Homo sapiens: one gene and its partner. Changing the gene in region 1 together with any one later gene gives a genetic interaction. Each region holds a gene or a part of one and is shown in the gene's direction. Other genes may lie near its edges. The genes, in order: CEBPB and NOLC1.

Evidence for each region.
Region 2: of CEBPB (region 1) and NOLC1, changing one enhances a phenotype caused by changing the other (phenotypic enhancement), as found in Homo sapiens cells (one study listed by BioGRID).

The regions. Positions count from the first base shown.
Region 1 is NC_000020.11:50,181,623-50,196,282, forward strand, and holds CEBPB (CCAAT/enhancer-binding protein beta), read left to right. Parts: upstream 1-9,207; 5' UTR 9,208-9,411; coding exon 9,412-10,449; 3' UTR 10,450-11,046; downstream 11,047-14,660. UniProt on the Homo sapiens protein: Important transcription factor regulating the expression of genes involved in immune and inflammatory responses. Also plays a significant role in adipogenesis, as well as in the gluconeogenic pathway, liver regeneration, and hematopoiesis.
Region 2 is NC_000010.11:102,155,016-102,169,361, forward strand, and holds the end of NOLC1 (nucleolar and coiled-body phosphoprotein 1), read left to right. Parts: intron 1-2,003; coding exon 2,004-2,059; intron 2,060-2,170; coding exon of another isoform or gene 2,171-2,173; coding exon 2,174-2,313; intron 2,314-2,415; coding exon 2,416-2,540; intron 2,541-3,033; coding exon 3,034-3,199; intron 3,200-4,177; coding exon 4,178-4,293; coding exon of another isoform or gene 4,294-4,323; intron 4,324-4,417; coding exon 4,418-4,553; intron 4,554-4,880; coding exon 4,881-5,009; intron 5,010-5,217; coding exon 5,218-5,328; intron 5,329-5,436; coding exon 5,437-6,078; intron 6,079-6,540; coding exon 6,541-6,647; intron 6,648-6,817; coding exon 6,818-6,910; intron 6,911-7,095; coding exon 7,096-7,254; 3' UTR 7,255-8,855; downstream 8,856-14,346. UniProt on the Homo sapiens protein: Nucleolar protein that acts as a regulator of RNA polymerase I by connecting RNA polymerase I with enzymes responsible for ribosomal processing and modification.

The DNA.
Region 1 (14,660 bases):
AATTTGTGTGCTATGATCTCCCTGTGAACAGCCACTGCAGTCCAGCCTGGGTGATACAGTGAGACCCTGTTTCTAAACAGATAAACAAACCAAAAAGAATACGTGAGTACATTTCCACTCCTCCCCTCATTTATGTGGGGTTCGCACACCACACATCCGGCCTGCTCTTGGCTTTTATTTTTTTTCCAATTAATGATAGATCTTGGAGATTGTTCTAGATGTGTACTGTTCAATATAGTAGTCGCTAGTCCAGGAGGTGATTTAAATGTATTTTAAAAGATTAAATTTTTATGTATTTTTTAAAAGTAGAGCACTCCTCCTGCCTCAGCCTCCCAAGTAGCTGGGACTACAGGCACACACCACCATGACCGGCTAATTTTTTTTTTTTTTTTTTTAAGATGGAGTCTCACTCTGTTGCCCAGGCTGGAGTGCAGTGGCATGATCTCGGCTCACTGCAACCTCTGCTGCCCGGGTTCAAGTGATTCTCTTGCCTCAGCCTCCTGAGTAGCTGGGATTATAGGCACCTGCCACTGTGCCTGGCTAATTTTTGTGGGTTTTTTTTTTTAGTAGAGATGGGGTTTCACCATCTTGGCCAGGCTGGTCTTGAACTCCTGACCTCATGATCCACCCGCCTTGGCCTCCCAAAGTGCTGGGATTACAGGTGTGAGCCACTGCACCCAGCCTTAATTTAAATTTAAATACAATTCAATAAAATTAAAAATTCAGTTCCTCAAGTACACTAGCCACATTTCAGGAATTCAATAGACACACATGGCTGATAGCTGCCGTATGATACAACCCAGATAGAGAACATGTCCATCATTCTAGAAGGTTCTCTTGGACAGTGCTGGTCTAAGTCCTCTCCCATGGAGCTACCTCATTCTTCTTAGTGTTCTTTGGTAATGACAGCCACTGACGTTACCTCACAAGCTTTTGCTATTGCAAAGCATTTGCTGTTCTCCATTTTTCTTTAAGCAAATGTGAGTGTCTTGGTGGCATAAATGCCTTGCATTTCTGGGTCCAGTGACATTTCCCATTTTGTTTTTTTCCTTTTTTTATATTTTGTTTTATTATTTTTTAAATTATACTTTAAGTTTTAGGGTACATGTGCACAATGTGCAGGTTAGTTACATATGTATACATGTGCCATGTTGGTGTGCTGCACCCAGTAACTCGTCATTTAACATTAGGTATATCTCCAAATGCTATCCCTACCCCCTTCCCCCACCCCACAACAGGCCCCGGTGTGTGATGTTCCCCTTCCTGTGTCCATGTGTTCTCATTGTTCAATTTCCACCTATGAGTGAGAATATGCCGTGTTTGGTTTTTTTTGTCCTTGCGATAGTTTGCTGAGAATGATGGTTTCCAGCTTCATCCATGTCACTACAAAGGACATGAACTCTCATTTTTTATGGCTGCGACATTTCCCATTTTGATGGGCATGGCCAGATTAGAACTGGAGGTTACGCCACTTCGCACAAAGACTGAAGCTGTAAGAGTGCCTGTTTTTCCACACCATCAACACTGCGTGTCATTCACATTTTAAAAACGTTTTAGCTAATGGCAAAGGTTTTCAAGACAAACGTGACTTTACCAGGCCCCTGCCCTGCCTGTTGCCTCTCAAGTCACAATGCCAGTGGACATCTTTCTCTGTCCACAGGTGAAGATCCATCTTTTGTTTGTTTGTTAGAAATGAGAGGCCGGGCGTGGTGGCTCATGCCTGTAATCCCAGCACTTTGGGAGGCCGAGGCGGGTGGATCAGGAGGTCAGGAGATCGAGACCACGGTGAAACTCCGTCTCTACTAAAAATACAAAAAATTAGCTGGGCGCAGTGGCGGGCGCCTGTAGTCCCAGCTACTTGGGAGGCTGAGGCAGAATGGCGTGAACCAGGAAGGCGGAGCTTGCAGTGAGCCGAGATCGCGCCACTGCACTCCAGCCTGGGCGACAGAGCGAGACTCCGTCTCAAAAAAAAAAAAAAAAAAAAAAAAAAAAAGAGATCTTACTGTATTGCCCAGGCTGGTCTTGAACTCCTGGGCTCAAGGGATCCTCCTGCCTCGGCCTCCCAAAGTGCTGGGATTACAGGTGTGAACCACTGCGCCTGGCCCACGTTGGCCTTTTTTTTCAAATTGTAAAATACGCAGAACATAAAACTTACCATATTAACCATTTTAAGTGCACAGTTTGGTGCCATTAAGGACATTCACGCTGTTGGGTAATCGTCACCACCATCCATCTCCAGAACTCTTTCCATCTTCCCAAAGATGGAACTCTATATCCATTAAACAAGAACTTCCTCCTACCTCAGCTCCTGGCAACCACTGTTCTATTTTCTGTCTTTATGAATCTGACTACTCAAGGCACTTCATGTAAGTGGTATCATGCAGTATTTGTCCTTTTGTGACTGGCTTATTTCACTTAGCACAATATCCTTAAGGTTCATCCGTGTTGTAGCCTGTGTCAGAATCTCCTTACTTTTTAAGGCTAAATAACATTCTATTGTACAGACACATCACATTTTGTCCATTCGTCCATCGATGGACACGGGTGGCTTCCACCTCTTTTTTTTTTTTTTTTTTTTTTTTTAAGTCGGCGTCTTGCTCTGTCACCTAGGCTGGAGTGCAGTGGTGCGATCTCAGCTCACTGCAACCTCTACCTCCCAGGTTCAAGCGATTCTCCTGTCTCAGCCTCCCAAGTAGCAGGGATTACAGGCACCCGCCACCACACCCAGCTAATTGCTTCCACCTTTTGGCTATTGTGAAGAAGGCTGCTATGAACGTGAGTGTACAAATATCTCTTCAAGATCTTGCTTTCAATTCGTTTGGATACACACCCAGAAATAAAATTGCTGGGTCATTTGGTAATTCTATTTTTAATTTTTTGAGGAACAGCCATACCATTTCCCACAGTAGCTACACAAGCATTCCAGTTTCTACACATCCTTCCCAACGCAGCAGCCAGCCTAATGGGCGTAAGGTGGTATCTCATTGTGTTTTATTCCTTTTATTTTTAGTTGACACATAATTGTACATGTTCATGGGTTACAAAATGATATTTCAATACATGTATACAACGTGTAATAATCAAATCTGGGTAATTAGGATATCCATTACCTCAAGCGTTTATCATTTCTTTGTGTCGGGAACATTCAAAATCCTCTCTTCTCATTGCGTTTTGTTTGTTTTTTAGATGGAGTCTCACTCAGTTGCCCAGGCTGGGGTGCAGTGGCGTGATCTTGGCTTGCTGCAACCTCCACCTCCCAGGTTCAAGTGATTCTCCTGCCTCAGCCTCCCAAGTAGCTGGGACTATACGCACGTACCATCACGCCCAGCTAATTTTTGTATTTTTAGTAGAGACGGGGTTTCACCGTGTCGGCCAGGCTGGTCTCCAACTCTTGACCTCAGGTGATCCACCAAAGTGTTGCGCCTCATTGCAGTTTTGGTTTGTATTTCCTTAATGGTTAGTGATGTTGAGTATCTTATCATGTGATTATTAGCCATTCACAGTTTTCTCTGGAGAAATGTTTATTCAAGTCCTTTGCCCATTTTTAATTGAGTTGTTTTTATTGCTGTTGAGTTGTAACAGTTCTTTATGTATTCTGGATATGAACCCCTTATCAGATATATGATTTGCAAATATTTTCTCCCATTCCATGTTTCCATGTTCCATTTTTTTTTTTTTGGAGGCAGAGTCTTGCTTTGTCACCCAGGTTGGAGTGCAGAGGCACAATTTCGGCTCACTGCAACCTCCGCCTCCCGGGTTCAAGTGATTCTCATGTCTCAGCCTCCTGAATAGCTGGGATTACAGATGCACGCCACCATGCCTGGCCATTTTTTTTTTTTTAATTTTTAGTAGAGATGGGGTTTCACCATGTTGGCCAGGCTGGTCTCAGACTCCTGACCTCAAGTAATCCACCCACCTCGGCCTCCCAAAGTGCTAGGATTGCAGGCATGAGCCGCTGTGCCTGGCCAGCCCCCACTATTTCTATGACACAAATTCCTGCTACTCTCCGTCATCACCACAACTACGTGCTCCTACCTCAGGGCCTTTGCACTTGCTGTTCCCTTTGTGTGGTCCAAGGTCCCCCAGATACCTGCTTCACCACATTCAGGTTTTTGCTTAAATGTCACCTCAGTGAGGTCTTCCCTGACTACTCTAACATAAAGTTAAAATCAACTCCCCCAGCTTGGGCAATATAATGAGACCTGATCTCTACAAAACATTAAAAAATCAGCTGGGTGTGGTGGCATGCCCCTGTGGTCCCAGCTACTTGGGAGGTTGAGGTGGGAGGATCACCTGAGCCCAAGAAGCAGAGGCTGCAGTGAGCAGAGATCGTGCCACTGCACTCCAGCAGTGAGACCCTGTCTCAAAAAACAAACAAACAAAAAACCCCAGAAAACAAAAAATCAAATCTCCCAGAACTCCTGCTCTGCTCCCCTGCTGTATTTTCCTCCATAGTGCTGACCAGAATCTAATACAATCTATACTTTAATCATTGATCTTGTTTAGTGCTTGTCTTCCCCCAGGAGAATTTCAGCTCCACGAGAACAGGAATTGCTTGTCTTGTCCATGAATGTGTCTTTAGGGCCAGAATTACAGCATGTGCCAAGGAACATTCGATAAATGTGAAGGTTGAGCACTGTTTTCTGTTCGTTGGACACTCTGGTTCCTCTCGGCGGCCTGCTGATGCCCTGTGTGCATCTATCACATCCATGGCACCGGCCTTTCCTGATCCCAGAGCAAGGGCGCCCAGCGGATCTTCACGCATGTGAATGGCTCCTGCAGTCCCAGAACCTGCCACCTGGGGGCAGTATATACTCAGGCAAGTTTCACTACCGGTCCTGAGCACCTCCCGTCTCCAAAATCCTGGATCTCAGAACCTCGGAGCCTGGCAGCCCTTGGGGATCTATCTCTGCCAGCCCCACTTGGCAGATGGGGAAACTGAGGCCTCAGAGAGGAGGCATGATGGGGAAAATCTCAAACATTGGAATCAGGGAATCTGGCTTTTAAGTCTGGCTCTTGTACCCATTCACAAGGGTACAAGGGGGATTTGGAGGGGGAAGTAGGAAGTTCTAATCCTCTTCGGGCCTCAGTTTCCCCATCTGCCTGCTTTGTGGGGTGAAAGGGACATCTGATTAACTCTAATGTGTCGGGGAAGGCCAGCAGTGAGGGGTAACAGCAGGCCCAGAATCCCAGATAGAATATTATCACCTCATTTTATATACCAGGGACTGAGGCCCAGAGGGGACACCAGACACGGCCGGAGAGCCACAGCATGGAAGGCACAGGGCAGCATGAAAGGCCATCCCCCTGCCATCCCCCTGCCCCACGCCCACTAGAGACACCCCCCCATTCATGTTCTGATGGTTCACCTCTCCGCCATATTTTCCCACCTGCTGGCTGATTTCTAAGCCCTTTTGCAGAACACTCTCTGTCAAAGCAGCCACGTGGATCTCCCCTTGGCAAATCGCCTCAGTTTTCTCCTCTTGAAAATGGGATAGGGAAAAGCTGCAGAGATGGGGAGGAGGAATTGTGAAAAGCAGTTTGGGGGCAGAGGAGGACGTGTGTCCCAGGTAGGAAAGTGCCTGTTCCCTCCCCGCCCCCGCCTGGCTCCTGCCCACCACCATGTGGCCACGTGGGCCCAGCCCACAGCTTCAGGTTTTAAAAGAGGAGCTGGAAATTTGAATTTTGATGTGAAATCTCCTGATTTTTAAATGTTGGCAATAAATTCACTTAAACACACACACATCAAGCAAAACGCTATGGGGTCAAATTGAACACATCTGTGGTCTCGATTTGGCCACTGGCTGCCAGTTTGAGATCCTTTCCGGCTCTAGGTTCTGAGGGCAGGTGACTGGGAGAGGTGGCGCCAGGGGGATCCTGGTTTCCTGTGCCCACACAGCCACTCACGTACTCTGGGCCTCTGGGCCGTGGTGGTTCAAGCTCCCACCATCCCCACTTCTTGGGGAAAGGCTGAACAGTACTGGGGTGGGGGTGGGGGAGCAGCAGGCGGGGCCTGTTGAGCAAGAGCCTTGTAAAAACAAGGGCTTACGTCATCCTAGCTTGCAGCTTCCCTGCAGGACACCTGGGTCGGCACCGGGGTGGGACCTGCGCTGAGAAGGGATGGGTCATCCCCAGCAGGGGGTGGAGGGTGGGGAAGGGTGGCAAGCATGTTCCACCCCAGAGGCCAGAGGGCCTAGACCCCTGCTGGGGCTGAGTCTGGTCTTTGGGGGCTGGCCTGCAAGGTCCGAGTAACACCTTAACGCACTGTGTGACCCCAGGTCTACCCTTCTCTGTGCCTCAGTTCTTCTATCCAGAAGATGGGACTCACATTGCCAGGCCTGTTATGACAAACCCAAGAGGGAAAGTCAGACTGGAAAGATTTTATTCCTTCTCATCCTTTCATGTGACCTGGAGCAGACACACTTAGCTCTTCTGGGCCTCAGTTTCCTCATCTATAAAGTGGAGATAATGATAAGACTGTGGCCTGGCGCAGCGGCTCACACCTGTAATCTCAGCACTTTGGGAGGCTGAGGCAAGAGGGCCACTTGAGGCCAGGCGTTCGAGAAAAGCCTGAGCAACAGAGTGAGACATATCCATCTCTACAAAACATTGAAAAATATGAAAAAAGAAGAAGAAAAAAGACCTGCCTCCTACAAATTATCAGTAGGATTAAATGAGTTAATACATGCAAAGAGCTTGGAATGTGGTTCAGAGAAGGTGGAAGTTTGGCCTAAGAACACACAGCAAATCCTCCAATTAGCTTCAGTTCCCCCATATCTCCCTGCATCTCTTCAGAATCCAGAAAGGGAACGTGGGCGAGTGCTTTGGTTCAGAGAGGGGAGCCATTTTGCCTAAGGTCACACAGCCCAGCTAACGAGGAACCTCTCCTTCTTCTCAGCCTCCTCCATTTATTCACTCACCATTCATCGAGCACCTTCTATGTACCAGGCTCTGTTCTAGGCACCAGGGACACAGTAGTGAAGGCCGTGGGGACAGACAGCAAGACTGGCAGGCAAGATAATTCTGATTATAATGAGAATGGTGACGGAAATGAAGCAGGGGTGTGAGAGGAGTGACTGAGGGCCTAGACTTCCCATGGGAAGGTCAGGGAGGGTTTCCCGGAGGAGGCAGCTTTTGGGCTGAGACCTGAGGAGCTGCCTTGGGCAGAGGTGGGGTGACAGTGTTCTTGGTGCACAGGGAACAGCAAATGCATTCCTTCACTGGTAAATGTTGAGCGTGCTGTGCTCAGGAGTCCCTCGTGGGCCAGCCCTCCCCAAGTGGCAGCCTGCAGGGAGACTGAGGTAGACAGCTAGGATAATGGTGGCTGGCGATAGGGAAGGAAATTCACTAGCAGGTGGGACAGGGAGGGCCTCTCAGAAGCCGTGGCCTCTAGCTCAGCCCTGAGTGTCCCATTTTGCAGTGAGGAAGGGCTGGCCGGGTGGCCCTAGGGAAGCTGCCGCACCCCTCTGGGCCTTGATCCCTCCCCAACCCAGAGGCTGCTGGGAAGACCCAGAAAGCCAGCAGGCTGGGCCAGTGTTTTATCCCCTCCCTCCCTGCCTCCTACCCACCAAGGGTGCCCAGAGATGTCATTTCTCCAGCTCTTGGGGGCGGAGGTCACCCCAGCTCAGCAGATAACACCAAAGGTTGAGCAATGCCCGCCTGCCCGCTGGGGCCAGGGCTGGGGTCAGTGGGCTGGGGATCAGCCCCGGGCAGGCTGGGAGCTCCTGCCTAGGTGGCCTGGGCTAGGAGTGGCAGAGAGGTGGGCCCAGGGAGCTGCCCCAATGGCCTAGGAATGGGTCCGGGAGGGCAAAGGGCCCTCTAACCTGAGCCTACCCAGCAGAGGCGGGCAAGTGGTCAGAAGGCCTTGGGCCTGTGTTCAAGTCCAGGCGGGCCGTTGTCGCTTTCCCGTCTGTGAAATGGCAGCAGCAAAAGCATCTTCCTGGTGGGGTGAAAAAAGTTGAACCTCGGGGTGCAGGCCCACCGTAAGCACAGGGCAGGGACTTGGTAAAAACTTATCTTTCTCTTTCCTTCTCTTTCCTGCATACCACCCCCTCCCGTGAGGCCTCGCTTAAGTCCCTCCCTAGCAACTTCAGAAACAGAAGTTTTTGGCCTCTGGGACTGGCAATAGGTCTTAGGGCTCAGATGAGGGCATTTCATTTGGGATGAATGGGGGACATGCGGCCATGTGACCTTGGTATGCCACGCCATGCTCTCTCTGGGCCTCCACTGGCACAATCCGTGGGGGTCCCGTTCTCTCTGATGTGCAGCCCACAACGTAAGCCTTAGGTTTGGGAGTCTGGTGGGAACAATGCCACCACCACTGACAGTAGCGACACCCTTCATGGATTGCAGCTGGGAGAAGTGAAGTGACTCACCCAAGGTCACACAGTGTGGCAGGGCCGAGCACCCCCCGCCCCTGCCCCATCCCAGGGCCCAGGTCGGGTGGCGCAGCGCGGGGCAAGAGAAGACCCGGGCGTGTCCAAGCCTCGAGCAGGCGGCAGGTGTGGTGGGCGGGGCTAGGGGCGGGGCTCCGTGGACCAGGGTCCAGCCCCAAGCGGGGCGCGATCCTGCCCGGTCGCGCCGACCCCCGGGGTCCTCATATTGTCTGTGGCTTAAGAGGGGAGTCGTCACAGGCGTCAAGTCTTCTTTCTAAAGCCGGGGACCTGGGGAGGAGGTGGGAGTTTACGGGAGGAAGGGCCACGGAGATGGGTCGCTTCTCCTGGAGCTAGAGCTGCGGGCTGGGGTCTCCAGGGTTCGGCCCGGGGAGCCGACCCTGGTCGGCCGTCGGGGCTCTGCTCGGCCCTCCTGAAACCTCCGCCTCCTCCAGCAGGGGGCGGGCCGGGGCCGCGTCTCGGGGGGAAGGCGATCAGGTCGCCCCCTCCTCCGATTCCCCCGCCTTCCAGGACAGCCTCCAGCCCAGAGGGGCGGTCCGGGGGCGGGGTCGCACCGCCCCCTCTCGCTCCCAATCCCGGGGCGGCCGGGCGGGGGTGGGCAGGGGGCGTGAGGCCGCCCCTGCGTCCCGGGGGCCCCCCGAAAACGCGCTCCGGGTGCCCGGTCCCTCCGCTGCGCCCTGCCGCCGTCCTCCCGGGGGTCTCGGGCGGCCGCGGCCGTGTCCTTCGCGTCCCGGCGGCGCGGCGGGAGGGGCCGGCGTGACGCAGCGGTTGCTACGGGCCGCCCTTATAAATAACCGGGCTCAGGAGAAACTTTAGCGAGTCAGAGCCGCGCACGGGACTGGGAAGGGGACCCACCCGAGGGTCCAGCCACCAGCCCCCTCACTAATAGCGGCCACCCCGGCAGCGGCGGCAGCAGCAGCAGCGACGCAGCGGCGACAGCTCAGAGCAGGGAGGCCGCGCCACCTGCGGGCCGGCCGGAGCGGGCAGCCCCAGGCCCCCTCCCCGGGCACCCGCGTTCATGCAACGCCTGGTGGCCTGGGACCCAGCATGTCTCCCCCTGCCGCCGCCGCCGCCTGCCTTTAAATCCATGGAAGTGGCCAACTTCTACTACGAGGCGGACTGCTTGGCTGCTGCGTACGGCGGCAAGGCGGCCCCCGCGGCGCCCCCCGCGGCCAGACCCGGGCCGCGCCCCCCCGCCGGCGAGCTGGGCAGCATCGGCGACCACGAGCGCGCCATCGACTTCAGCCCGTACCTGGAGCCGCTGGGCGCGCCGCAGGCCCCGGCGCCCGCCACGGCCACGGACACCTTCGAGGCGGCTCCGCCCGCGCCCGCCCCCGCGCCCGCCTCCTCCGGGCAGCACCACGACTTCCTCTCCGACCTCTTCTCCGACGACTACGGGGGCAAGAACTGCAAGAAGCCGGCCGAGTACGGCTACGTGAGCCTGGGGCGCCTGGGGGCCGCCAAGGGCGCGCTGCACCCCGGCTGCTTCGCGCCCCTGCACCCACCGCCCCCGCCGCCGCCGCCGCCCGCCGAGCTCAAGGCGGAGCCGGGCTTCGAGCCCGCGGACTGCAAGCGGAAGGAGGAGGCCGGGGCGCCGGGCGGCGGCGCAGGCATGGCGGCGGGCTTCCCGTACGCGCTGCGCGCTTACCTCGGCTACCAGGCGGTGCCGAGCGGCAGCAGCGGGAGCCTCTCCACGTCCTCCTCGTCCAGCCCGCCCGGCACGCCGAGCCCCGCTGACGCCAAGGCGCCCCCGACCGCCTGCTACGCGGGGGCCGCGCCGGCGCCCTCGCAGGTCAAGAGCAAGGCCAAGAAGACCGTGGACAAGCACAGCGACGAGTACAAGATCCGGCGCGAGCGCAACAACATCGCCGTGCGCAAGAGCCGCGACAAGGCCAAGATGCGCAACCTGGAGACGCAGCACAAGGTCCTGGAGCTCACGGCCGAGAACGAGCGGCTGCAGAAGAAGGTGGAGCAGCTGTCGCGCGAGCTCAGCACCCTGCGGAACTTGTTCAAGCAGCTGCCCGAGCCCCTGCTCGCCTCCTCCGGCCACTGCTAGCGCGGCCCCCGCGCGCGTCCCCCTGCCGGCCGGGGCTGAGACTCCGGGGAGCGCCCGCGCCCGCGCCCTCGCCCCCGCCCCCGGCGGCGCCGGCAAAACTTTGGCACTGGGGCACTTGGCAGCGCGGGGAGCCCGTCGGTAATTTTAATATTTTATTATATATATATATCTATATTTTTGTCCAAACCAACCGCACATGCAGATGGGGCTCCCGCCCGTGGTGTTATTTAAAGAAGAAACGTCTATGTGTACAGATGAATGATAAACTCTCTGCTTCTCCCTCTGCCCCTCTCCAGGCGCCGGCGGGCGGGCCGGTTTCGAAGTTGATGCAATCGGTTTAAACATGGCTGAACGCGTGTGTACACGGGACTGACGCAACCCACGTGTAACTGTCAGCCGGGCCCTGAGTAATCGCTTAAAGATGTTCCTACGGGCTTGTTGCTGTTGATGTTTTGTTTTGTTTTGTTTTTTGGTCTTTTTTTGTATTATAAAAAATAATCTATTTCTATGAGAAAAGAGGCGTCTGTATATTTTGGGAATCTTTTCCGTTTCAAGCATTAAGAACACTTTTAATAAACTTTTTTTTGAGAATGGTTACAAAGCCTTTTGGGGGCAGTAATTGGCTTTTGTTTTTTATTTTTTTACTTTATTTTGGATTTGTAGGATTTTGTTTTTGCGTTTCTGGTGTGTAGGGGGTTGTGTGTGGGGGGCTGCTGTTATTTTTGGAGGTTTTGGTGGTTGGGTGGGGGTGTTGCAGCTGGTTTTTCTGCCTCCTCTGCTACTCCCCCTCCCACACACACAGGGTCTGCTTGAGATGGGGTTCCAGCCCCGGGGGAAAGGGGAGAAGAGTAATGGGTCAGGCATTCAGGCTGACTCAGAGCCCCTAGGCGCCGGGACGGGTGGCTGGGAACCCTGCTTGAGAAGAGATTCCGGAGCCTCTGGCTGGTCCCGAGTGTCAGGCTTGGGTTTGGAAGGGCTGGGAGGTCTGTGACCCCTGCCCTGTGTTTGGGGACTAGGTAGGCAGGCCTGTGACTGTAGGAGGAGGGGGTTCAGGTCTTGGTCCTGCTGAGCCCGAGTCAGGGCAGATGCTTTTGGTCAGTGTAGTGGGGTGGGTTGTTTAAAACACAGTTTGTGTATACATGTGTATTTTAAAGAGGGGAGCCTGGGTGTGTGGGCGAGTCTGTGTTTGTGTGTCCCTGGCCAGCAGGAGGGGAGAGGCCAGGCCAGGTGGAGAGAGGTGGGGGAGGGGTTCCCACACTTTGATTACCTTTCCTGAGGATGGGAGGCTCATCACTTGCTCTCTTTGCCCAGACTTGGACACTGAGCCCACCTCACCTGCCTGCTCAAGGTGGCTGAGCCCAGGCACAAACGTGGGGCTGCTAGCCCTGATTCCCTGGGACAGGCTCCTCTTCCCTGCCCACTGATCCCTTTGCCCCTTCCGGCTTCTCACCGCACCCCCTACTCCCATCCAGCCCTGGATGGCATTCCTGAGAGTTGAGGATGTAGATGGATGTGAGTGGATACATGTACAGCGTCCCACAGTGCCTGGCACGCAAGAAGTGTTATATAAGCGCTTGCTCTTGTTATTATTTTTTGCTGGGAAGCTGCTGGCATTTGGCACCCCAGTCTCCAGTGCAGCGCCAGTGTGGCCAGTACTTGCCAGGGGCCGGCATCTGGTAAACACTGGACCTGCCCCATCCCATTTAGACCTCACAATAACCTTTGGGAAGGTGGGGATTGTTATGACGCCTGTTTTTAGAGGTGGGGAGCAGCTTTGGGCTGTCCGATCCCTATGGGCAAGACACTGGTTGGGGGTTGCCCTGCCCTGAGGAATTCAGGGGCAGCAGGCATCGTAGCCTGGTTTGCCAAGGACCTGGGGCGGTCTGGGATCTCAGGAGCAGTTGCTGATACCGTGGTTCGCGAATGGGAAATGCTTTGCCCCTCCTTTTCCTTTTGGGGGCCTGGTTGTGCTTTCCCTGTGGGAGCCTGGGATGTGGGGAACAGACAGCGACACTCATCCCCCACCGCCACAAAGCGGAGGATTCCTATAAGCTCCACCTCCCTAATGCCAGTGTCTCCTGATGGTGGCTCGAGGGCTATGCAGATTGCTGGACACAGATAACCTCACTTCAACCTGGGACCTGCAGCGTGGCCCTGACCACGTCCCCTCCCAGCCCTGGGCAACTGGACAACTGGCCGGGCATGCCTTCAAAGCCTCGAAGTCAGTTCAGTCCCAAGCCCCACTGGTCTCGATGGTTTCTGTCAGTAGCAGCGACAGCAATGTGGGCTTGACCTCAAGGATTTACTTGCTGAAGGCAGAGGCTGAGGGGCTGGACCTAGGGAAGGAGGGAGGTGGAGAGGGTCGAAATTGAGGAACAAATCTCAAATCCCTGCTCCCTCCTTTGTCACCAAGAGTTGGCTGGTGGCCACTGCTCACCCAAATGAGGTGAGAGGGAAGCAGCCTGGCCAGACGGTGCCCCTCTTCCGCCCCCGTCTGCCCCACAGCTTCGCTTCTGTTTCCCCAGTGCTGTCCTGGAACCAGCGTTGAGTCAGTTCTTCACACACTCACATCTTGCTCTCATCCACAGTACCCCACAGAAGGTGCTAGACCCATTTCTAAAAGCACACATTGAGGTCCACAGAAGTGAGGTTTGTGCTCAAGGTGGGCTAGGTGGAGCAGGTTACAAAACCATCCGACTCCCAAGTCTATGGGGAAAGTTTGGGGCTGGGAGCCTGGTTTGTAATCCCAGTTCCTGTTTAAAATCCCAGGCTCTTCTTGGAGGGCTCCTTGCCTGACCTCAAGTTCAGGCACTCCAAGCCCCAGAACTGCAAACATCAGTTTCACAGTTTGGAAGCAACAGAAAGTGAATTTGAACCTGAACCCCTTGGGCTGCCTCTAAGGAGGGCTGGGAGAAGCAGTTCACAGGTTGAGGGCTTTGACGGTGGCTTGGTATGGGAGCACTGTGGACGGAGCTGTGCCCAAAGGACTTGGGGAGATGTCATAGTTAGGGCAACACCAACCCCACAGTTCACCAAGCTGCAAGGGTGAAGGGCTCGCAGGGAGGAACCAGTCCATTCCGACATCCAGAAACAGGAGGGGGTGGGATGGGGTGAGGCGAGCCCAGGAGGCCAGGGACGAGCCTTGAGGAATCATGATAATAGCAGGTGTGAGACAAGGGCTTAGATGTGCAAAGCACCACTCCAAGCCCTTGGCACAGAGGGAGGTGCTGGGTCCTTAGATATGTGGGAGAAAGCCGGTCATGTTAACCACAGACCCATTTAGTGTGTTTGACCACTGAGGCTAGCTGGGAGGTGGGAGCCTGGAACCCCAACTAATGTTTGCTCAGGACAAGAGAGTTCACAAAACAAGACACATTCACACCTCATAATCTTATGCAATTGTCCCACGGCCTGGTGATTTTAGCAAGGAGATAAGTGGATGTCAGAAATGAACGCTCGAGACACTGCTGGGTGCCGGTTCCACACTGACACTGTGCTCCTTGGTTTAATCAACTCATTAGCCTTTTGGAGGCTGCAGCTTTTGTTACTAGCATTTTGCTGCTGTGCAAACCAGCTTAGAGAGGTGAACTGACCTGTCTTAAGTTTGCACAGCTAAGAATGGCAGAAGCTGGAGTGGGAGTGAGAAGGGGAACTGCTCCTTCTGAACACCTGAAGAATATTTCCCTGCAGGCTGGGCGAGGTGGCTCACGCCTGTAATTCCAACATTTTGGGAGGCTGAGGACGGCAGATCATTTGAGGTCAGGAGTTTGAGACCAACCCCGGGCAAAATGGTCTCTACTAAAAAAATACAAAAATTAGCCTAGTGTGGCGGTGGGTGCCTGTAGTCCCAGCTACTCAGGAGGCTGAGACATGAGTATCACTTGAATCACAGAGGCGGAGGTTGCAGTGAGCCAAGGTCGCACCACTGCACTCCAACCTGGGCGACAGAGCGAGCGTGCCTCTGTCTCAAAAAAAAAAAAAAAGAATATTCCCCTGCCTTCCAAGTTTTGTCCAGACCTCTCTGAGACTGTTTTCTCCCAGTTTCTCAGTCGTTTTTTTGCCCAGTTATATTTTTCATTTATTTGACAAACATTTATTGAGCACCCGCTGTGTGCTAGGCCCCTTACTGGGTGTTGGGGACATGTGGTGGCCAAGATGGAGGTGATAATTTTCAGGGAGACACAGATGCTAAGTATCCAGTGACTGGAACA
Region 2 (14,346 bases), on another chromosome or scaffold:
TGGCTAATTTTTTTTTTTTTTTTTTTGTGACAGTTTCGCTCTTGTTGCCCAGGCTGGAGTGCAATGGTGCAATCTCGGCTCACCACAACCTCCACCTCCTGGGTTCAAGCGATTCTCCTGCCTTAGCCTCCTGAGTAGCTGGGATTATTACAGGCATGCGCCACCACGCCCAGCTAATTTTGTATTTTTAGTAGAGACGGGGTTTCTCCATGTTGGTCAGGCTGGTCTCGAACTCCCGATCTCAGATGATCCACCCGCCTCAGCCTCACAAAGTGTTGGGATTACAGGCGTTTAGCCACCACAGGCCAAGCAACCGCAGTGCCATTGCAATCCAACCTGGGCGACCAAGAGCGAAATTCCATTTCAAAAAAAAAAAAAGAGAGAGAGAGAGAGATGGAGGTCTCACTGTCTTGCCCAGGCTGGTCTTGAACTCCTGTCCTTAAGTGATCCTCCTGCCTTGGCCTGCCAAAGTGTTAGCGTACCTGCGCCCGGCCTGAATGCATTTTTTTTTTTTTTTGAGACTTACTCTGTCGCCCAGGCTGGAGTACAATGGTGTGATACTGGCTCACTGCAACCTCAGCCTCCTGGGTTAAAGCGATTCTCCTGCCTCAGCCTCCTGAGTAGCTGGGATTACAGGTGTGCACCACCATGCCCAGTTAATTTTTTGTGTTTCTGGTAGAAATGGGGTTTCACCATGTTGGCCAGGCTGGTCTCAAACTCCTGACATCATGATCTGCCTACCTCGACCTCCCATAGTGCTGGGATTACAGCAGACCTGAGCCACCGTGCCTGGCCCTTAAATGCAGTTCTTTACATTCAATACAGTACTTACTAGTCTTGTTTCTTTCTTTTTTTTTTTGAGACAGAGTCTTGGTCTGTCGCACAGGCTGGAGTGCAGTGGCGCGATCTCAGCTTACTGCACCCTCCGCCTCTGGGGTTCAAACGATTCTTCTGCCTCAGCCTCCCGAGTACCTGGGATTACAGGCGCCTGCCACCACACCCGGCTAAGAGACAGGGTTTCTCCATGTTGGCCAGGCTGGTCTTGAACTCCTGGCCTCAGGCGATCTGCCCGCCTTGGCCTCCCAGAGTGTTGGGATTATAGGCGTGAGCCACTGCATCCCGCCTGGAGGCTTATTTCTAATGATTTGGTATTATAATCCACATTGCAGGAAAAACCTTCTTGTATTAGTGTTTGTACCCTCAAGTAATGGATAAGATTACATTCTTAGATAGTACATTGCTAGAGTAAAGAGAGAGCCTTTTTTTTGGCAGAGGGGTAGAGATGGGGGTCTTGCTATGTTGCTTAGGCTGGTCTTGAACTCCTGGCATCCAGTGATCCTCCTGTCTCAGCTTCCCAAAGTGCTGAGATAACATGAGATAACAGGCATAAGCCACTGTGCCCAGTCAAAAGTGATTTTTTTTTTTTTTTGAAATGGAGTCTTGCTCTTGTTGCTCAGGCTGGAGTGCAGTGGCGCGATCTCCTAGGTTCAAGTGATTCTCCTGCTTCAGCCTTCTAGGTTCAAGCAATTCTCCTGCTTCAGCCTCCCAAGTAGCTGGGACTACAGACATCTGCCATCATGCTGGGCTAATTTTTGTTTTAGTAGAGATGGGGTTTCACCATGTTGGCCAGGCTGGTCTTGAACTCCTGACCTCTTGATCTGCCTGCCTCGGCCTCCCAAAGTGCTGGGATTACAAGCATGAGCCACCGTGACTGGCTGATTTTTTGTTTTGTTTTGTTTTAGGACTTTGATCAATATAGATTGGCAGGCAGGGGGTTAGATGGTTAGATGGTGCCGCAAACATAGGAGTAGCCCGTTTTTTACATCAGAAATTGGGAAATCCACAAATAGAATATTTTTCTCCTGATTTATGCACGTAGCAAAAGTTTTATGAAGATGTAACATTTATACCAAATTTAGTAATTATGTATGTAACAGGCCACATTTAATGAAAGCATAACCAGGATAAAATAATTTCCTTACCCAGCTCTTTTTCTTCTACAGACACAGCAGGATGCCAATGCCTCTTCCCTCTTAGACATCTATAGCTTCTGGCTCAAGTAAGCCTTTCCTGTTCCATTTTGGCTATTTTCTCCCCCAAGATAGGCTGGGCTGTGTTTCTTGGTTTGGGAAGATTCCAGTCCCCTAGAAATTGGTCCAATCTACCTCAGCAGGTCTGCCAAGGTCCCAGAGCGAAAGTTACAGGCAAATGGACCAGTGGCTAAGAAAGCTAAGAAGAAGGCCTCATCCAGTGACAGTGAGGACAGCAGCGAGGAGGAGGAGGAAGTTCAAGGGCCTCCAGCAAAGAAGGCTGGTAAGGCAGAGTAGCAGGTGGGCTTGGTGGTGCCAGGAAAAGAATTTACAGCCTGCTTGTTTCACATGGCTGATTCTTACTGGGACCTGTGTGTTTGTTCAGCTGTACCTGCCAAGCGAGTCGGTCTGCCTCCTGGGAAGGCTGCAGCCAAAGCATCAGAGAGTAGCAGCAGTGAAGAGTCCAGTGATGATGATGATGAGGAGGACCAAAAGAAACAGCCTGTCCAGGTTTGCAGCTTTGGGAAGAAAAAGGGGTTTAAGGATTAGAAAGGAAGAAACCTAAAATCTTGGCCTCTAGCTTGTAACCAAGGGGTGATGGCGGCAATACAATAGGTGATTATGAGGAAGAAAATCTGGGGATTTTCAGGGAGCTGATAAAAGTATGAGGTCTGGAAGGGATGTGTGAGGTTGAGGTCAGGCTCCGAATCTAGAGGAAATTAAACCCATTCTGCTTGAGGAGTTTGGGTTCTTCTGGGACACTATTCAGGGCTCCAAGAATAAGAGAGAGTGTTTTCCTGGGAGCTTTGGCAGGATAAGGCAGGAACAGGGCCAGTGTATCAAGTGGCTGAACTTTGTTGTTTTTTGCCCTTTCCGTATCCTGTCCTTAGCTTTCTTTTGCTCTTACTGCTCCATTAGGCCCCTAAAAATAAAAGGAACCTAGGATGCCCTTTGGGTACCCGGAAGCTTTTGCTGATTTCTCTCCTTGTGTCTTTTCTAACAGAAGGGAGTTAAGCCCCAAGCCAAGGCAGCCAAAGCTCCTCCTAAGAAGGCCAAGAGCTCTGATTCTGATTCTGACTCAAGCTCCGAGGATGAGCCACCAAAGAACCAGAAGCCAAAGATAACACCTGTGACAGTTAAAGCTCAGACTAAAGCCCCTCCCAAACCAGGTACTGTTTCTGTTCCCAAGAGGCTGGGCTGGGGACCAGATTGCTCTGGGGACTGGAGTTAAAATTGCCGATTTGGCACAGGGGTGAAATGGTACTGTTTGTTGAACTGGAGGTGTTGATTACTGGTCTTTTAATTTTAAAGGTTTTACTAATAAATAACAAGATTTCATAGGAGCTAGTAAATAGAGAAAGTTATTGCAGCAAGAAAAAATGTGTATTTTTTTTAATGGTATCCATTTGGTATTTTGTGACATTTCATAGACATTTTATGTTTTCACACATCCCATTCCACTGTAATCACTTAAATATCTATTTGTTGTGCTTTTCACTGCCATTTTTACTCTTGTATGTTCATTCTATGAGACAAATGAGAATTTTTCTTTTTTTCTGTAACTTGTGATGAGGGTTAGGTTATTTCTCTGAATGGAGGTTGAAGTGAAAGATTTTAGAGGGCGTATTGAGATTATTTATGTCATCTTTTCTAAGAAGACAGTTTTATTCCTGCCATGGGATAGGAAAGGTATCCTTTGATGTGGTAAACCATGGCTGGCATTCTCCTCGATGGCTGCTCTAAAGTTGAAAGAATTGGTGGACTCCTGGCCAGGCACAGTGGCTCACACCTATAATCCCAGCACTTTGGGAGGCTGAGGCGGGCGGATTGCTTGAGGTCAGGAGTTCAAGACCAGCCTGGCCAACATGGCGAAACCCTGTGTCTACTAAAAATATAAAAATTAGCTGGGCATGGTGGTGGGCACCTGTAATCCCAGCTACTCCAGAGGCTGAGGCGGGAGAGTTGCCTGAACCACTGCACACTAGCCTGTGCAACAGAGCCAGAGCCAGACTCCGTCTCCAAAAAAAAAAAAAAAAAAAAAAAAAAAAATGGTGGACTCCTAAGTTCTCTGCTCATAGGAAGGAGGTTTTTCATGGTCCTGACTTGCCCTAATACTCCTTACTCTTTCTTTTTCTTGGGTATTCCAGCTCGAGCAGCACCTAAAATAGCCAATGGTAAAGCAGCCAGTAGCAGCAGTAGCAGCAGCAGCAGCAGTAGCAGTGATGACTCAGAGGAGGAGAAGGCAGCAGCCACCCCCAAGAAGGTCTGGACCATAACTTCTGTCAGGGCAGAGGTGACCAGGGTGTGATGTGTGTGTGTCTTCCTTCCCTGGCAGGATTGGTTGGGTCAGCATTTTCCTGTGGTAATCAATTTTCTTTCTAATGCAGACTGTACCTAAAAAGCAAGTTGTGGCCAAGGCCCCAGTGAAAGCAGCTACCACCCCTACCCGGAAGAGTTCTAGCAGTGAGGATTCCTCCAGTGACGAGGAAGAGGAGCAAAAAAAACCCATGAAAAATAAACCAGGTGACTGGACATGGGGAGCGAAGCTGTGTGACTGTGGTCAGGGCCCAGCTGCAGTAACCACATGGACCTCTCCATAGAGGTGCATGAGCGTCCTCATGACATGACAGCTAGCTTCTCCGAGCACTAGTGATCCAGGAAAGCAAGGAGAAATCTCCAGTGCCTTGTGTAACCTAGACTCAGAGGTGACACCATGTTCTGTTAGAACTGAGTCATTGATTCTGGCCCATACTCAAGTGAAGGGGAATTAAGCTTCATTTCTACAAGAAAGTAGTATCAAAAAAAGTTGTAGACATATCCTAAAACCATCACACTATCCTTTTTAAACAGGTCCCTACAGTTCAGTCCCCCCGCCTTCTGCTCCCCCACCAAAGAAGTCTCTGGGAACCCAGCCTCCCAAGAAGGCTGTGGAGAAGCAGCAGCCTGTGGAAAGCAGTGAAGACAGCAGTGATGAGTCTGGTGAGTCAGAGGGATGCAGCCTCCCCTCAGCGTGGGTCTGGAGGAGGGGATGAGGAATAAGGGAGAGAGAAAGCCTTCCATCCTTCGGTTGCTTTTTGCTTAAAGCAAGACAGAGCTAAGGCTCTGTGCGTGTCTTTGCATTCTTTTTATTGCTGTCCTGGTTGGGTTGGGACTCTGGACCCAGCATAATGCTACAGGTTCTCCTCAGATTCAAGTTCTGAAGAAGAGAAGAAACCCCCAACTAAGGCAGTAGTCTCTAAAGCAACCACTAAACCACCTCCAGCAAAGAAAGCAGCAGAGAGCTCTTCAGACAGCTCAGGTAAGGCATATGGAGGCCCTCAGTTCAGTGAGATGCTCTCAGGCAGCTGCTAAGGGCTCCCCTGAATCCAATTTGGGGAGCTGTTGATTCCATCCCTTCTGTGTCTAGACTCTGACAGCTCTGAGGATGATGAAGCTCCTTCTAAGCCAGCTGGTACCACCAAGAATTCTTCAAATAAGCCAGCTGTCACCACCAAGTCACCTGCAGTGAAGCCAGCTGCAGCCCCCAAGCAACCTGTGGGCGGTGGCCAGAAGCTTCTGACGAGAAAGGCTGACAGCAGCTCCAGTGAGGAAGAGAGCAGCTCCAGTGAGGAGGAGAAGACAAAGAAGATGGTGGCCACCACTAAGCCCAAGGCGACTGCCAAAGCAGCTCTATCTCTGCCTGCCAAGCAGGCTCCTCAGGGTAGTAGGGACAGCAGCTCTGATTCAGACAGCTCCAGCAGTGAGGAGGAGGAAGAGAAGACATCTAAGTCTGCAGTTAAGAAGAAGCCACAGAAGGTAGCAGGAGGTGCAGCCCCTTCCAAGCCAGCCTCTGCAAAGAAAGGAAAGGCTGAGAGCAGCAACAGTTCTTCTTCTGATGACTCCAGTGAGGAAGAGGAAGAGAAGCTCAAGGGCAAGGGCTCTCCAAGACCACAAGCCCCCAAGGCCAATGGCACCTCTGCACTGACTGCCCAGAATGGAAAAGCAGCTAAGAACAGTGAGGAGGAGGAAGAAGAAAAGAAAAAGGCGGCAGTGGTAGTTTCCAAATCAGGTCTGTACCCAATGAACATGCCCTCTGGGTTTTGTCCCCCCAAATCAGGATGGGATATACTCTTTGAGAGTAGGGTAGTGAGAGGAGGCCCACCACTGGGCTTCCAGTTGTGGAAACTGGGAGGAAGAACAGGAAACTGGTTACCTTTTTTTTTTTTTATTAGAGTCTCACTGTGTCACCCAGACCAGGGTGCAATGGCATGATCACGGCTTGTGCAGCCTTAACCTCATGGACTCAGGTGATCTTTCCACCCCAGCCTCCTGAGTAGCCGGGACTACAAGCATGCACCACCATGTCTGGCTCATTTTTTTAACTTTTTATAGAGACAGAATCTCACTATATTGCCCAGGCTGATCTGAATTTCCTGGGCTCAAGCGATCCTCCTACCTTGGACTCCCAAAATGCTGGGGTTACAGTTGTGAGCCACTGTACTCGGCCTGAGTCTGGCTTTTTGTTTTGTAGGTTCATTAAAGAAGCGGAAGCAGAATGAGGCTGCCAAGGAGGCAGAGACTCCTCAGGCCAAGAAGATAAAGCTTCAGACCCCTAACACATTTCCAAAAAGGAAGAAAGTAAGTTGTCTCACTTTCTTCTCAGGAGCCAGCTCTTTAAAAGTAGAAAAATCTAGGATCATCTTGACAGCTCTGCCTGGCGTGACCTGGTACATGTGCCCATGTGTATCACTCAGGAGAACTGTTACATGACCACTCTGTCTTTAATTTCCTACTTCATTCTTCTGTAGGGAGAAAAAAGGGCATCATCCCCATTCCGAAGGGTCAGGGAGGAGGAAATTGAGGTGGATTCACGAGTTGCGGACAACTCCTTTGATGCCAAGGTGAGAGAGAGATCTGTGCCATTCTTGGGAGGGAGGATGGGTAGTGTCAGAGAGGACAATTCTTGGTTCAGGTTGGTGGGAATCTTCTCTGGGTTCAGGTTTCCTTGAGCAGGGAGTAGAAAGAATAAAGTGACAGGGCTCCAGCATGGTCCTCCTCTGTGTTAATCTCCCTCTCTACTTACCAGCGAGGTGCAGCCGGAGACTGGGGAGAGCGAGCCAATCAGGTTTTGAAGTTCACCAAAGGCAAGTCCTTTCGGCATGAGAAAACCAAGAAGAAGCGGGGCAGCTACCGGGGAGGCTCAATCTCTGTCCAGGTCAATTCTATTAAGTTTGACAGCGAGTGACCTGAGGCCATCTTCGGTGAAGCAAGGGTGATGATCGGAGACTACTTACTTTCTCCAGTGGACCTGGGAACCCTCAGGTCTCTAGGTGAGGGTCTTGATGAGGACAGAAGTTTAGAGTAGGTCCTAAGACTTTACAGTGTAACATCCTCTCTGGTCCTTTTCTGTGTTCCTAGTTTTGTACAGACTTGTTTTTGAGTGTTGAGTAGCAGGGACAAAATAAGGGAATGTTATTTTTTAAGAAAATTCATTTTCATTGTTGTCTCCTTCCTTTTCTGTGAAAGTCCTCATACTGAGAAATTTGTATATTTTATATTAAATCACTTACTATTGATTTTTGTTGTGATTTTCAAAGGTGGATTCCCACAGATAAAATCTTGGCTATTGCCCAAAACATAGTAAAGGGTCACGTGTGACTTTTTATAATAGGAAGAAAATTCTGCCTTTGTGAGTGCACATGTCCACATTTCATCCCTCCTTCCCTCAAAACCCTAGAGAGGGGCATTAAAGAATTGTTGATGTATATGCAATGTCTGTTAAGCATGCACTATGTATTTCATCCTCATTTATTGGGTCTGGGACTGAAGTTTTTAGCCAGCATGGACCTAACCTACTTTTTGGGATAAAATTCTCTGTTTTGTTACAGGCAAAATTCTGGTATGGCGTGAATGCCATGGGTCATTCTGAATATATTTTTTTCTGTAATTTTATCATTACACGATGTTTGCAATACGTGCTTTGTTTTTTAATTTGAAAGCAAACTTTTCTACTGTTGAAAGACATTTTTTGACAACTTGACCCTTCCTAGTATTGAGTTCTAAGTTGAGGACTGCATCTTCTCGTTTTTTACAGTATAGAGAACAAAATGACATGAGTTTGAAAAATACATATCACTTGGTATTGCTGTCTTGGTTGCAGTGGTGATACAGAATTGGTTTCATTAATTCCTACATGGTTGAGAATCACTGATCAAGAAAGTGGGGGGAAAAAAAACAAACGTTAAAACCTCAATCCTCAGTAGGAAGGTAGATTACATTAGGTGAAATTATAGGTAATCTATGTATGTGCTAATGGGGTTGGAAAGAACCTTACAGAGCATATTACCTGATAAACTGGAGTGGGTTTGGGAGAACAAACTAATAGGATTATTGTGTCTCCTAGTTGGTACCTGGGAGCAATTGACATGCCCCCTTCAGAACCTTAACTGTTAGTAGCAGTGGCTGTAACAACACAAACCAGTGACCAGAGATAACAGCTTTTAGGCCAAGCTGGCCTGACGGTATGGCTGCAGGAAGTGACTGAGCAGTAGCGGTACTCAGCCAGACCAAGACGGAGAGGGAAGAGTCCACAGCTTTCTGGAAGCTAAGGCATTCTGGTGGTAGAAAAGTGTGCCCCAAGCCTTCATGGACGAGTTATAGGTCTTAAGATTAGTCTCCTCTTGTTTGGATTCCATACTTGCTAAATAACCTGATAATAACCTGGTTTTCCATGTAACTGCCTCTAGGAAGAAAATGTACTGTTCATGCTGACACAGATATTTCAGTCTGCATGGTAAAAGTTCTAAATCTTACTACAAAATAATAAACTGGCTGGTTTATAATGTGTCTTGGGAGTTTTATTATTGTGAGTCTAAACCCCTCCCACCCCCTACTCAAACCAGAACAACTTTGGTGCCAGTTATAGGACTGGGGTCCAGACCTGTGATTTCACTGCAGAGGCTTTTTGGCAGCAGCTTGTCTCACGGTGCCTTTTCCAGGCTATATTCTAGCCTACGCATAGTCCAAATTGGGGGTTGGCAAAATGGCCTATGGGTCAAATCCAGCCCATGGTTTGTTTTTGTATTACCTAGGAGCTAAGAATGGTTTTTACATTTGTAAAGGTCTTTTAAAAAGAGAATGTGTGACAGAGATCTTATCAATGGCCCACAAAGCCTAAGATATTTAGGATGCGGCCCTTTACAGAAGAAGTTTGCCAATCCCTGGTCTAAATCAGCGATTCCTAAGACATCAGCTGAAAATTAGAATCATCTGAGGAACTTAGAAGCACGGATACTCGCAAATCAAAACCACAATGAGATACCATCTCACACCAGTTAGAATGGCGATCATTAAAAAGTCAGGAAAGAACAGGTGCTGGAGAGGATGTGGAGAAATAGGAACACTTTTATACTGTTGGTTGGACTGTAAACTAGTTCAACCATTGTGGTAGACAGTGTGGCGATTCCTCAGGGATCTAGAACTAGAAATACCATTTGACCCAGCAATCCCATTGCTGAGTATATACCCAAAGGATTATAAATCATGCTGCTATAAAGACACATGCACACGTATGTTTATTGTGGCACTATTCACAATAGCAAAGACTTGGAACCAACCCAAATGTCCATCAATGATAGACTGGATTAAGAAAATGTGGCACATACACCCCATGGAATACTACAGCCATAAAAAAGGATGAGTTCGTGTCCTTTGTAGGGACATGGATGAAGCTGGAAACCATCATTCTCAGCAAACTATCACAAAGACAGAAAACCAAACACCGCATGTTCTCACTCATAGGTGGGAATTGAACAATGAGAACACTTGCACACAGGGTGGGGAACATCACACACCAGGGCCTAATGTGGGGTGGGGGGAGGGAAGGGATAGCATTAGGAGATAGATATACCTAATGTAAATGACAGTTAATGGGTGCAGCAAACCAACATGGCACATGTATACATATGTAACAAACCTGCACATTGTGCACATGTACCCTAGAACTTACCCTAGTATAATATAAAAAATAAAAAGAAACACGGATACTCAGGGGCCCATCCTGAGATCTATTGAGTCAGACCCTGGTGCTGTCTGGTGAGGCCCGGGCACTAGGGTATTTTTAAAGCTCCCAGATGATTCTAATGAACAGGTAGAGTTGAAAACCGCTTATCTAAAGAGTATTTGAAAAGAAGTGAATTGGTATTTCCCACCTTCATGCTTCCATTTTCAAATATACTTGTTAAAAATAATAGTATAAAATGAAAATTTCAGGCCAGGTACAGTGGCTTACGCATGTAATACCAGCACTTTGGGAGGCCAAGGCAGACGGATCACCTGAGGTCAGTAGTTCGAGACCAGCCTGGTCAACATGGTGAAACCCCGTCTCTACTAAAAAATACAAAAATTAGCTGGGCGTGGTGGCACGTGCCTGTAATCCCAGCTACTCGGGAGGCTGAGGCAGGAGAATTGCTTGAACCCTGGAGGTGGAGGTTGCAGTGAGCTGAGATCGTGCCACTGCACTCCAGCCTGGCGACACAGTGAGACGCTGTCTCAAAAATTTAAAAAAAAAAAAAAAAAATTTCATCTCAGCCCTGTTTCCTGGAACCTGCTTCTGTGTCTCCTTCCAGACAGTTTCTAGGTATGTGCTACTATATGCATCCTCCCCTCCTTTTTTTCTTGGCACAAATGGGGCAGTTCGTCAAGTGCAATGTTTTGCAACTTTCAGAGCTCAATTCATAGCAGAACACAGCAGCTCATTTTTAATGGCTATATGGTACTCTGTTTTAAGTTATTTAAATTAGTACTTTAGGGGCAGAAGTTTAAGTATTTTGCTATTACAAATAGTGTTACACTGGGTAGTCTTATACATGAGACTGAGTATCTGTGTGTTTTTATGTAGGAAATATTCCTAAAAATGATGGCTGGTTCAAAGGATATTTGCATTTATTAATAACATTTTGATCATTATTGCCCTCCAAAATCGTTCTACTAATCGTATAGTTCCAGCAACATTTTATCAAAGTGCCTCTTTGCCCTCTTGCCAACACTATTTACCAAATTGATCTTTGCTACTTGGATAAATGAAAATGCTCTCTCATTTTTGTTTGTTTTTGTTTTATAGTGGTAAAACACGACATTAAATTTACCACTAACCATTTTTAATTGTATGGTTTAGTAGTGTTAAGTATATTCCACTGTGTAACAGATACCTAGGACGTTTTCATCTTGTAAAATTGAAACTATATTCATTAAACACTAATATCCCCTCCTCCCCAGCCCTTGGCAACCATCTTTCTACTTTGTTTTTATGATTTTGGCTACTTTAGATATAACCTCATGAGTGGAACAGTAATGATATTATCTTTTTGTAGCTGGCTTATTTTACTTAGCCAAGCCAATGTCCTCAAGGTTCATCCATGTTATAGCAGGTGACAGGATTCCCTTCCTTTTTAAGACTGCATGATATTCCATTGTACGTCTATACCACTTTCGCCCAGACTGGAGTGCAGTGGCGTGATCTCAGCTTACTGCAACATCCGCCTCCCAGGTTCAAGCAATTCTCTGCCTCAGCCTCCTGAGTAGCTGGGATTATAGGCACCTGCCACCATGCCTGGCTAATTTTTGTATTTTTAGTAGAGACGGGATTTCACCATCTTGGCCAGGCTGGTCTTGAACTCCTGACCTCGTGATCTGCCCACCTCGGCCTCCCAAAGTGCTGGGATTACAGGTGTGAGCTACCACGCCTGGCCTTGGCATTTTTATTTTATTTATTTTGAGACAGGGTCTTGCTCTGTCACCCAGGCTGGAGTACAGTGGTGCAAACTTGGCTCACTACAACCTCCACCTCCCAGGCTCAAGCAATCCTCTCATCTTAGCCTTCCGAATAGCTGGGACCACAGGTATGTGCCACCACACTTGGCTAATTTTTGTGTTTTTTGTAGACAGGGTTTTGTCATGTTGCCCAGGCTGGTCTCGAACTGAGCTCAAGCTATCTGCCTGCCTTGGCCTCCCACAAGTGTTGGGATTACAGACGGGAGCCACCGCGCCCAGCCCGTTTTCATTTTTAAGTTGAATATGACATACATCCATTAATTTATTCTCCTTAAAACATAAATAATTTGTGAGGTTGCTGTTTATTGTTTAAATCATGACTTTTCTTCTGTATTGTATAACCCTTCTCAGTCTTGTTTGCTTTTTTCCGACAGAACTCATTTCCTCTTAGGCCTTGCAAAGCTGAGTCTGCTACGTTTTGCAGCTAGTGTGTTACACAAATGAGGCGGTTTAGCAAATTGCCTAACAGTATTCATTAGGAAGGTTAACCTGAGTCTGCGTTTGTTTGTTTGTTTGTTTGTTTTTGAGACAGGGTCTTGCTCTGTTGCACAGGCTGGAGTGCAGTGGTGCGATTACGATCACCGCTCACTGCAGCCTCAGCCTCTGGGGCTCAAGCAGATACTCTGATCTCAGCCCCCTGAGTAGCTGAGATCCTCCCACCTCAGCCTCCTGAGTAGCTGGGACTACAGTAGTCACTAGGCTTGGCTAGTTGTTTTTTTGTTTGTTTTGTTTTTGTTTTTGTTTTTAATTTTGTTTTGTAGAGACAGGGTCTCCCTGTGTTGCCCAGGCTACTCTCAAACAATCCTCCCACCTCAGCCTCCCAAAGTGCTGGGATTACAGGCGTGAGCCACTGTGCCCAGCCCAGAGTGTACCTTCTGATGTAAAATGAGAATACTGGCTGGGCCTGTAATCCCAGCACTTTGGGAGTCCAAGGCGGGTGGATCACGAGGTCAGGAGATCGAGACTATCCTGGCTACTTGCAGTGAGCTGAGATCGCACCACTGCACTCCAGGCTGGGTGACAGAGCAAGGCTCTGTCTCAAAAAAAGAGAGAATACTATCTCAACTCATTTGTAGATTCTTGACTCTCTCAGAGGCTTGTTGTAAGGACTGAGAATTTAAAGCACTTAGTACAGTCCCTGGCATATTATAAGCACTCCATAACTGCCTCTTGCTCAACAAAAAAAGCTTTGGAAATGATGTTCTTTGGTTTCCTTGTGATGTGCAACATGCCATTTTGGCAAAGGCATCAAGCATATGTTAATGATTATTTCCCTGCAATGGTTTTTTGTTGTTTCACGTTTATCATCTTTATTCCTGATACAAAAATGGATATGTGGAATTGGTCCTATTAGAAACTTCTTAGTTTTGTGAAGAATCTGGAATTCCTACCCCTTGCTGATGGGCTCTGGCACTGAAATCCGCAAATTCAGTCAACCAGACACATGGCTCATGCCCCTCTGCATCATGCTTCATGGACACAGGCAGGAGACTTCCTAATGCCCTGTTGGGGGCTTGCCCTTCGCCCGGTGTAGCCTTACTGCAACCCTGTTAGGTGGGTATCGAGTAGATCATTCCATTTGGGGCCAGGTAAGTCTTTGCTTTTGAGGACTGTCCTGTGTGTTGTAGGATGTGTGGCAGCGTCCCTGGCCTCTAACACTGCATGCCAATAGTTTCCCCTAGTTGTGACAACCAAAAACGGCTCCAGGCATTGCCAAATATTTTCTGGGAAGGAAAATTGCCCCTAGTTGAAAACCACTACGGAAACAGCCCTGAGTATCAAATGATTTACTTAGGGTTGATGAAACTGCAACTTAGTGGCACATTGAGACAAGAACACAGGTCTCTGTATGTCCAAACATGGAGCTACCTGTATTCAATAGTCTTTGTGAACCTGCTATGTACTCGTCATAGAACTCCCAGAGAGCTCAGTGTCTAATGGGGAAAGTCAGGCATGGGAATGGTTTCTGTGCACTGAGCTGAGTTCTGTCCCAAACTGAAGGTCAGAGTAGCACCCCTAAGGGTACAAGCAAGAAAATACTTGGCTTGGCCCGGTGTGGTGGCTCACACCTGTAATCCCAGCACTTTGGGAGGCCGAGGCAGGCAGATCACGAGGTCAGGAGTTCGAGACCAGCCTGGTCAACATAGTGAAACCTCGTCTCTACTAAAAATACAAAAAATTAGCCAGGTGTGGTGGCAGGCGCCTGTAATCCCAGCTACTCAGGAAACTGAGACAGGAGAATCGCTTGAAACCGGAAGGCGGAGGTTGCAGTGAGCCAAGATCGTGCCACTGCACTCCAGCCTGGGCAACAAAGTGAAACTCTGTCTCAAAAAAAAAAAAAAAAAAAAAGAAGAAGAAGAAGAAGAAAAGACTTGGCTGATGGTGGCCTAGGATTCTGAAGACAGCTGCAGTTTGCCAGGAGCGAGAAAAGTGCATACCGTGTAAGGAAGAGTGCCTTTTCCAGTGGGAGAAGAGGGCTGTTAGAATGGGTCAAGCAGAGGTGTGC